Homo sapiens: one gene and its partners. The protein of the gene in region 1 purifies or fractionates together with the protein of each later gene. This does not show direct contact. Each region holds a gene or a part of one and is shown in the gene's direction. Other genes may lie near its edges.

What was found. Proteins that work in one complex are often made in the same cells at the same time.
Region 2: the proteins of SCN5A (region 1) and ADGRG5 purify together in Homo sapiens (co-immunoprecipitation; one large-scale study listed by IntAct). This does not show direct contact.
Region 3: the proteins of SCN5A (region 1) and LITAF purify together in Homo sapiens (affinity purification with western blotting, with the first as the bait; one study listed by BioGRID). This does not show direct contact.

Annotation. Positions count from the first base shown.
Region 1 is NC_000003.12:38,639,688-38,643,187, reverse strand, and holds part of SCN5A (sodium channel protein type 5 subunit alpha), read left to right. Parts: intron 1-3,500. UniProt on the Homo sapiens protein: Pore-forming subunit of Nav1.5, a voltage-gated sodium (Nav) channel that directly mediates the depolarizing phase of action potentials in excitable membranes.
Region 2 is NC_000016.10:57,545,643-57,549,142, forward strand, and holds part of ADGRG5 (adhesion G-protein coupled receptor G5 isoform 1 precursor), read left to right. Parts: intron 1-3,500. UniProt on the Homo sapiens protein: Orphan adhesion G-protein coupled receptor (aGPCR). Ligand binding causes a conformation change that triggers signaling via guanine nucleotide-binding proteins (G proteins) and modulates the activity of downstream effectors, such as adenylate cyclase.
Region 3 is NC_000016.10:11,548,920-11,552,419, reverse strand, and holds part of LITAF (lipopolysaccharide-induced tumor necrosis factor-alpha factor), read left to right. Parts: intron 1-615; coding exon of another isoform or gene 616-697; exon of another isoform or gene 698-713; intron 714-2,674; coding exon 2,675-2,783; 3' UTR 2,784-3,500.

The DNA of each region.
Region 1 (3,500 bases):
GGCTGAGGGCCAGAGACCACCCACCCCAGCCTCTGTTCCTCATGTTCTGCTCATAGACGTGGTCAGAAGAAGACACGGGAGCTCAGCCGGCCATTTGCAGCGACAGCCTCACCACTGTGCTGGGTCAGATGCAGCACAGACTGCCAGTTAAATAAAGCGACAGCTAGTTGCCAGCAAAACTGGAAACCCAAGGAAAGCCCCCACTTGCTTGCGGAGCCTAGGTGCCTATTAGATGTCTAATTGCTGAGCTTCTGTTTCAGGAAGTCCGAGGGAAGGAGAGATAACAACTCCCTAAGGATCCCTTGGGGTCTATGGTCCCCAGAGATAGCTGGACTTCAGGTCCCTTCCAGTCCTCGCCTTTTATGATCAAATTAAGGACACGTCCCCAGATGGGTGACTTGTATTCACAGTGCATTACACAGGGAGCTTAGATCACACTCGCCAACAAATAAAAGGTAAAAATCTCAAACATCGTGTTGAGTAAAAACAGCCTGACACAGAAGAGCCCATAAGGTAGAATTCCATATGCATGAAGTTCCAGAACAGGCAAAACCAACCTAGGTGATAGAAATCAGAGCAGTTGACTGAAAGGAATAGTGGGACTTTCTGGGGTGAGGGGATGTTTGCTGTCTTATTGGAGTGGCACTCACACAGGTGTATGCATTTGTCAAAACTCATCCAACTGTATACTTAAAGCATTTTCTTGTGTTTAAAGAGTACCTCAGTATGAAAGAATATTAAGAAAAAAGGGTTGCACATTTGGCTATAATACATCATGGACACTTTTGTGGCATAAATTTAGTGTATTGGTTGATTGGCTTATTTCCCTCTGGACACTAAGAGACCCTAGAGGTGGGCCTCCGAGGTTTCCATCTCTCTTGGTGCACACAGTAGGTGCCCCATAAATGCCTCAGTTGCCATGGCATCAGTGCACAGTTCCTCTGTGAAGCTTTTTTTCAGCTCAAGTATTGAGAAAAATGAGTTGGAAGGAATTGAGCTAGAAAGAGACTTAGAACGCTGATTGCTGTCTCGGGCACCTGTGTGCCATGACGGTGTTTCCTGGGCCACATGTGGGCACCTTTCTGGCCTGATTATGTATACCATGTGTGTTTACACAGAGATGGTCTGGGGTCCGGGGTGGAATGCCCCTGGGTGACTAAGCTGGCACTCCAACTCTGGGTCTCTGTGGTTTCAGGGTATTAGACCATCCAGGTCCCCACCCTGGAGACCCAGGGCCAGGGGCAGTGCTGCCTTGGCTGACAGCGAAGTGCCACTCAGCATATTCTAGATACCCTGTGGATGGACCTGGGCATGTGTAAAGGGGCTGACAAAGAAGACTCGGGCCTGGGGTAGGGGGGTGCCCTATGCACTTTGGAGGGGGTACCTGAATGACCTGGGCCTTTTGCAGTTCCCCTGGCCTGGCACCCAGACACTGATGAACAGTCGATGGGTTGAATAAGCTGCTGCCAAGCCCCCGGCCCCCATCCTTACTGTGGGGAAGGGCTATGAAGAAAAAAGCAGGGCCACCCACCTTTCAGTGAAGAGAGTGGCTACCCCCAGGCCAGTTTGTCCTTGGGAGGTGGGCAAAATTCAGGGCTCAGGCCGAAGAGCCCACTCTTCCTCAGCTCCCACCTCTGGAGGAGGACCCGGTCTCAGGCACCCCCATTTCATTTCATCCCTGCCTGGGGAATCACTTCAGCAGAGCAGCAGAGCTAAAGCGGGTGGGGTTTTCCTGTCAGCTGAATTAGCCTCGGCTTCAGCCTGGGTGTTGGAATAAATGAGATGTAAATGTATGTAAATGAGGGCATTCCCTGGCTTCAGGGTGGGTGTGTTCTCCTCCACCTCCAGGAGGGATGGGGATGATTCTTCAGGACTTAGCAAGATCGCTGGAGGCGGAGATTAAGAGTAGAGAATGACAGGCTCCTCAGACTCTCCCATCTCCCCCAGAACTGGGCTCCAGACTGGACAGGGTTAATGCCTATGCAGCCTCAAAGGAGCGGAGCCTGTGGGGAGCTGGTTAGCTGAGGCCCCGTGCAAGGACGGACCAATGTGCCTTTGATCTGGGAGCAAGGACCTGAAAGCACAGGCCACCAGCACCAGCTGGCACCCCCACTGAGCCTTTGTCCAAGCTGTTAGCCCGGGAGAGCCGAGACTGTGCAGACAATTGCCTGGGCGGGAGGGATGGTCTGAAACTTACTGTCGATCTCTCCCACTTACATCCCCCACCATCCCAACCTGTGGCTTGAGCCTCCACAACCACCCACAGCCACTGCCAGAAACCAGGATGGGCACTTTCTGGTCTGCGGGGGACAATGCTCTTTCAATCCTTCCCTGAGGCCCCCGCCCCCAGCCCCACCCCCAAAGCAGGTAGAAGTCTTCCCCACGCCCACCCTTGCCCGAGACAGAGTGTCGCTCTGTCGCCCAAGCTGGAGTGCAGTGCAGTGGTGCAATCTCCGCTCACTGCAACCTCTGCCTCCCGAGTTCAAGCAATTTTCCTGCCTCAGCCTCCTGGTAGCTGGGATTACAGGTGCCTGCCACCACGCCCAGCTAGCTTTTTGTATGTTTAGTAGAAATGGGGTTTCACCATGTTGGCCAGGCTGGTGTCGAACTCCTGACCTCAGGTGATCCACCTGCCCCGGCCTCCCAAAGTGCTGGGATTACAGGCATGAGCCACTGTGCCCGGCCTCAGGTAGAATTTTTTTAAGGGCTTAGGGCCTGGTGGCTGGAACTTGATGCCAGTGCCATCCAACAGAAATATAATATGAGTCACAAATGCAAGCCACATATGCAATTTTAAATTTTCTAACAGCCACATTTTTTAAACTAAAAAAACGTGAAATTAACTTGAACACATTTTATTTAATCCAGTATACTACTATCAAATATTATCTGTTTAACTTGTAATCAATATTAAAAGTTATTAACGAAATAGTCAACATTCCTTATTGTACTAAGCCTGCAAAATGGATGTGACTTTACAATAGCACAACTCAGTCCACAGTAGCCACATTCCAAGCACTTGGTAGCCACATGCAGTGAATGAGTGGCCACCCTGTTGTTGGACAGTGCTTGAGCTGGAGAGAAAAACTGCTGGGGAATCGCTTCTGCCAGGAAAACTGCTGACTCTTCGGGCATGGGCAGAAATCGGCTAGGTCTCCCTGGGAGCATCTGGGCTGCATAGAGGGAGAACCAGGCTCAGATGAGGCTGACAGGGCTGACTCTTAGCCTTGAAGTGGGGGTCACAGACACAGTCCAGGCAGATGGGCCATAGGCAAGCCATGAGCTTTTATCCCACTCTCTGCACGCAGAGGTAGGAGGCAATGTGGTGCAATGGGTAGGCTCACAGGCCTGGCTTCATACAGACAGGGGCTCACTTCATCTCTCCTACAGTCAGATTTCCCATCTGTAAAGCGAGGCTAATAACCCCCGTCTTCCTAGGATTGTTGCAAGGATGAAGTAAGGTGATCCACGAACTGCACTAAGTGCAGTGCAGGGCACAG
Region 2 (3,500 bases), on another chromosome or scaffold:
TTTCCATGTCAATAAGAGCAGAGCTTCCACTTTTTCATCTGCATATTCTAATGTTGTAGGAATAAGTTACAGTTTATTTAATTAGTCCCGTGTTCATAGATATTTGTGCTGGTTCTAGTTATTTGCTCTTACAAACAATGTAGCTGTGCTTATATTATTTCTCACATGTGCAAGTTCACCATTTATTTATTTTTATTTTTTGAGACAGAGTCTTGCTCTGTCACCCAGGCTGGAGTGCAGTGATGTGATCTCTGCTAACTGCAACCTCTGCCTCCCGGGTTCAAACGATTCTCCTGGCTCAGCCTCCCGAGTAGCTGGGATTACAGGCACGCTCCACTGCGCCTGACTAATTTTTGTATTTTTAGTAGAGACAGAGTTTCACCTTGTTGGCCAGGCTGGTCTTGAACTCCTGACCTCAGGTGAGCCTCCTGCCTCGGCCTCCCAAAGTGCTGGGATTACAGGTGTGAGCCACCGTGTCTGGCTCTATTTATTTATTTTTGATACAGGGTCTCATTCTGTCACACAAGCTGGAGTGCAGTGCCACCATCATAGCTCACTGCAGCCTCAAACTCCTGGGCTCACGTGATCCTCTCACCTCAGCATCCCAAGCAGCTGAAACTACTGGGTGCATGGCACCATGCTCAGCTAATGTTTCTGATTTTTAGTAGAGACAAGATCTTGCTATGTTGCTTAGGCTGGTCTCGAATTCCTGAGCTCAAATGATCCTCCTGCCTCAGCCTACCAAAGCGCTGAGATTACAGGTATGAGCTACCACGCCCCGCCATTTGCCCATTTTTATATTGGGTTAGACTTTTCCTTATCAATTTCTAGAAACTTTTACATAATGGGAAAATCAGCTCTTGTCTATTGTACATATATAAAACTATTACATGCAAATATTTTTCCTAATTTGTCACTTGTCTTTTAACATTACATATGGCCTTCTTTTGGCCAGGTAGAAGTGTCTTTTTAAATAATTTTTATGTAATAAAATGTATCTGTATTTTCTCTTTTGGCTTCTGGATTTTGAGTCATAGCTAGAAAAACCTTCCCCACTCCAGTGTTTTCTTATTTGGTTTCTGTTTTTTGTTTTTGAGACAGGGTTTTGATCTGTCACCCAGGCTGGAGTGCAGTGGCACAATCATAGCTCACTGCAGCCTCAACCTCCCGGGCTCAAGTGATCCTCCCACCTCAGCCTCCCAAGTAGCTGGGACTACAGGTGTGCGCCACCATGCCCAGCTAATATTTTGTAGAGATGGGGGTCTTGCTGTGTTGCCCAGGGTGGTCTCCATCTCCTGGGCTCAAGTGATCCTCCTGCCTTGGCCTCCCAAAGTGCTGGGATTACAGGTGTGAGCCACTGCACCTGGCCTGTCCAGATTTTGCATGTAATAAAATATATGGATTTTTTTTCAAGAATGGGATTAGGTTGTTTTGCAATGTGCTTTCTGTCTTTCATGAGCAATATGCCACTATTATTTCTTCCATATTGATAGTCATTTGGAGCATTTAAAAATCCTATTAAAATATTTGTGTTTTTTTTGTTGTTGTCATGAAGGTAATATGTTTGTTGTAGAAAATTTAAACAATACAGAAAATATAAAAGGAAGTTTTGAAAACACCTCTCCCCTCAAAAAAGCATTATTAACATTTTGGTGGCCACCCTTCTAGAGCTCCCAATATGCTTCAGCATGCATACAAACATAATTTTTCATAAATGAGATTATGTGTGTTATTTTCAACCTGTCCTTTCCACTCAGTGATATGCTGTGCTCTTCTTTTACATGGCTTTGTTTTTTGTTTGTTTTTGGTTTTGTTTTTTTTGAGACGGAGTCTCGCTCTGTGGCCAGGCTGGAGTGCAGTGGCGCGATCTCGGCTCACTGCAACCTCCGCCTACTGGGTTCAAGCGATTCTCCTGCCTCAGCCTCCTGAGTAGCTGGGATTACAGGCGCCTGCCACCAAACCCAGCTAATTTTTTTGTATTTTTAGTAGAGACGCGGTTTCATCATGTTGACCAGGATGGTCTCAATCTCCTGACCTTGTGATCCGCGCCTGCCTCGGCCTCCCAGAGTGCTGGGATTACAGGCGTGAGCCACTGCGCCCAGCCTGTTTTTTGTTTTTTGTTTTTGGAGAAGAGTCTCACTCTGTCATCCTGGCTGGAGTGCAGAGGTGCCATCATAGCTCACTGAAGCATTGAACTCCTGGACTCAAGCAGTCCTCTTGCCTCAGCCTCCTGAGTAGCTAGGATTACACGTGTGCCAACACGCCTGGCTAATTTTTATATTTTTAGTAGAGATGGGGTTTTTCCATGTTGCCCAGGCTGGTCTTGAACTCCTGACCTCAAGTGATTTGCCCACCTAGGCCTCCCAGCGTGCTGGGATTACAGGTATGAGCCACCACGCCTGGCCTCAAAATATTTTTTAGAGAAAGGGTCTCACTATGTTGCCTAGGCTGGTCTTGAACTCCTGGCCTCAAGCGATTCTCCTGCCTTAGTTTAGGATTACAGGTGCAAACCATGGTGCCTGGCTATACACATCTTTTTTTTTTTTTTTTTAAAGAATACACATAATTCTTAATAGTGAAATGACAATCTGTTGCATATTTTAACTTTTAATTTTGAGAAAATTATAAATGCACAGAAGGTTGCAAAAAATAGTACAGAACGTTTTGTATACCCTTCACTTATTCTCCAGTAGTAACATCTTGCATGCCTATAGTATAATATCAAAGCCAGGAAATTGTCTTTGGTATAGTTCACAGACTTCATTCTGTATTATACTCACTCATTTATGTATGCCGGTTCTTTGGTAAGTATATTTTAACTTTATAAGAAACTGCCAAATGGTTTTCCTTGCAATTTTATGACATGATAAAATAAAAGATTCCTGTAAACAACACCACGATCAAGACACAGAACTGTTCCATCGCCACAAGGATCCCTTGTGCGAGACCTTTAAAGAAACACACTCCCCCTCCCTAACCCTTTGCAACCACTAATCTGTTCTCCATCTTTATCATTTTGTCATTTCAAGACTGTTAAATAAATTGAATCACACAGCATGCAACATTTTGAGATTGGCTTTTTTTTTTTTTTTTTTGGCTCATGATAATTCCTTTAAGATCCATCCAAGTTGTGTGTGTCAGTAGCTTTTTTTTAGAAATTCATTTTTTTAACTGCTGAGAATTGTATTTCAGAGTGTAAAGGTATCACCATTTAACCATTTTCACCCACTTTGAGGCTATCATGAATAAAGCTGCTATGACTCTTCATATACAGGTTTTTGTGTGAACACGAGGTTTCATTTCTCTGGGATAAAAGCCCAAGAGTGCAATTATTGGGTCATATGATAGGTACATGTTTAGTTTTATAAGAAACTGTCGAACTGTTTTCCAGAATGGCATTGGAGTGTAATTTATTTATTCCTCTATTGATAGACATTCACATAGCTTTCAACTTTTCTTTATTAACAATACTATTCTAAATATTCTTGTATGTGTATAAT
Region 3 (3,500 bases), on another chromosome or scaffold:
GAAGTATTTTTCCCATTGCCCATGCAGGGAAATTATATAAATTTTATGTCTGCACCAAAGGTATTATGTTTAAAGAGATAACAGTTTCTGTTCTGGGAGAAAAATCTGAGGAAACACAATCAATTTTTTGTTTCCCACCAAGCAGGTAAAAGTAGCTTCCTTATACCTGGCCACGTGAGCCACTCAGAAAACCCCAAGGGGCTCCATTCTTTTCCTTGAAGGAAACGGTGTTTGTGAGTTTCAGGAGCCTCATGCAACCGGCACGTTCCTCCACATTGTCCTTTGGTGACTTGAGGTTGAGAAGGAACAATATTTCTCTTCCTAACTTCAATAAGAGGCTCAGAGTCCCAGAGAGTTTAGTTAACTTCCTTGAGGTCATGTGTTAAATAAGGAAGGAAGGAGACAAAACAGCTTTCTGGGCACCTGATTCCCCCTCTTGCCCACAGGACTCTGCTGTTGTTTTCATTCTGTGGGCAGAAAATGCTTAAAAAAAAAAAAAGTCCATTGCCTCTGGATATTTGTATTAAAACAAATTTTTTATCTTTGGAATCAGGGAAAGATGGAATAGAAACTTGTTTTGTTTTGTTTGAGGCTGAGTCTTGCTCTGTTGTCCAGGCAGGAGTGCAGTGGTACGATCGTAGCTCTCCGCAGCTTTGATCTCCTGGGCTCCTGCAATCCGCCCAGCTCAGCCTCCTGAGTACCTGGGACCACAGGTGTGTGCCACCATACCTAGCTAATTTTTAAATTTTTTTTTTGTGTGTGTGGAAGCAGGGGTTTTACTATGTTGCCCAGGCTGGTCTTGAACTCCTGGACTCAAGCAGTCCTTCTGCCTTGACCTCCCAAAGTGCTGGGATTATAGAGGAATAGAAACTTACATTGAGTATTGGCCTCTGCCAGTCTGGCTTTAGAAATTGAGGCAACCTTTCTTTCCCTCCCTTTGTTCCTTCCTTAAACATGGTAGAGTGGGTTCAAATCCTGCCTCTCACTAGCTGTGTGGCCATGGGCAAGTGACTTTACCTCTCTGTGCTTCAGTTTCCCCATCTGTAGACGGGGGTGCGGGGCAATAACGCCCACCTCAGGGCCTGCTGAGGATGAAATATGTGTGTGTGCTGCCTGGAGCCGTGCCTGCACCTGTAAGCCATAGGTTAGGATTCCTGCTGAATGGATTGACTGCCCTTATTTGAGCTCTGGAAAGCTTAGGCAATAGGAGGAAATTTCTTTCATGAGATAATTTCCTCATCAGAATATTTCCAAATTCTGCTTTATGTAAACCAGCGTCTTCCTGTGAAGGGTTGAGTTTTAACTCCATTTTTGGCAAACATTGGTTGTCAGGCGGTCTGAGGTTCCTGCCTGTGTGTGCCAAAGGTGGATTATGTAGGTTAAGAGGCATTATTTGGGGAACTCTACTTGGTTGCTGTAAGAAGCAGCCTGTCTATATGGAAAAGAGATCAGTAAGACGGGGGTTGGCAAAACGACCCTGGAGCCAGGCGCCTGTTTTAAGTTTTACGGGAACACAGCCACGCCTGTTGGTTTTTGGATTCTCTGTGGCTGTCTTCTCATTCCAAGGGCAGAGTTGAGCAGTTGCAACAGAGACGCCATGGCTCATCAGGATGAAAGTATGTGGCCGGGTGTGTGGTGGCTTCCACCTGTAATCCCAGCAATTTGGGAGGCGGAGGTGGAAGGATCACTTGAGGCCAGCAGTTCAAGACCAGCCTGTGCAACATAGCAAGACCCCATCTCTACAAAAACAAACAAAACACAGCAACAAAAAGACTAAAAGATCTACTATCTGTCCCTTTGCAAAAAAAGTTCACCAAGCCCATCTAAGACTTTGAAAGACTCCCAAATGACCCCAGATTTGAAAATAATACTCAAAGGGGCTCTGTCTGTAGGAGGAGCCTTGGCATTGGCTGGCATGTTAATTTCCTAGGGGTGTCATCACAAATTACAACACACCTAGTGTTTAAAACAACAGATATTAACTCTCACAATTCTAGAGGCCAGAAGTGCAAAATCAAAATGTCAGCAGGGGCCGGGTGTGGTGGCTCTCGCCTGTAATCCCAGCACTTGGGGAGGCCAAGGCGGGTGGATCACTTGAGGTCAGGAGTTTGAGACCAGCCTGGCCAACACGGTGAAACCCCAACTCTCCTAATAATAAAAAAATTAGCTGGGCCTGGTGGCATGCGCCTGCAATCCCAGCTACTCAGGAGGCTGAGGCAGGAGAATTGCTTGAACCCAGGAGGAGGGAGAATTGCTTGAACCCTGGGCGACAGAGCGAGACTCCATCTCAAAAACAAAACAAAACAAAACCAAAAACTAAAATGTCAGCAGGGCCACGCTCCCTCCTAAGGCTTCAGGGAGAATCATTTTTTGCCTCCTCCAGCTTCTAGTAGGTCCAGGTGTCCTTGGCTTATGGCCTCATCACTCCAGCTTCTGCCTCTGTCTTCACATTTCCTTCTGCCCTCTCTGTATCTCTGTGTGTCCTCTCCTCTTCTTCTAAGGTCATTGGGTTTTAGGGGTCCGCCTGGATAATCCAAGATGATCCCATCTCAAAATTCCTAATTATACTGGCAAAGACCCTTTTTACAAAGAAGGACATGAACATGGTTTTGGCAGCCAGTGTTCACCCTGTTGTGATCAGTAACGCGCTCCGTGTGTCTCTCTCTCCTCCCAGGTGCATAGCGGGCTGCTGCTTCATCCCCTTCTGCGTGGATGCCCTGCAGGACGTGGACCATTACTGTCCCAACTGCAGAGCTCTCCTGGGCACCTACAAGCGTTTGTAGGACTCAGCCAGACGTGGAGGGAGCCGGGTGCCGCAGGAAGTCCTTTCCACCTCTCATCCAGCTTCACGCCTGGTGGAGGTTCTGCCCTGGTGGTCTCACCTCTCCAGGGGGCCCACCTTCATGTCTTCTTTTGGGGGGAATACGTCGCAAAACTAACAAATCTCCAAACCCCAGAAATTGCTGCTTGGAGTCGTGCATAGGACTTGCAAAGACATTCCCCTTGAGTGTCAGTTCCACGGTTTCCTGCCTCCCTGAGACCCTGAGTCCTGCCATCTAACTGTGATCATTGCCCTATCCGAATATCTTCCTGTGATCTGCCATCAGTGGCTCTTTTTTCCTGCTTCCATGGGCCTTTCTGGTGGCAGTCTCAAACTGAGAAGCCACAGTTGCCTTATTTTTGAGGCTGTTCTGCCCAGAGCTCGGCTGAACCAGCCTTTAGTGCCTACCATTATCTTATCCGTCTCTTCCCGTCCCTGATGACAAAGATCTTGCCTTACAGACTTTACAGGCTTGGCTTTGAGATTCTGTAACTGCAGACTTCATTAGCACACAGATTCACTTTAATTTCTTAATTTTTTTTTTAAATACAAGGAGGGGGCTATTAACACCCAGTACAGACATATCCACAAGGTCGTAAATGCATGCTAGAAAAATAGGGCTGGATCTTATCACTGCCCTGTCTCCCCTTGTTTCTCTGTGCCAGATCTTCAGTGCCCC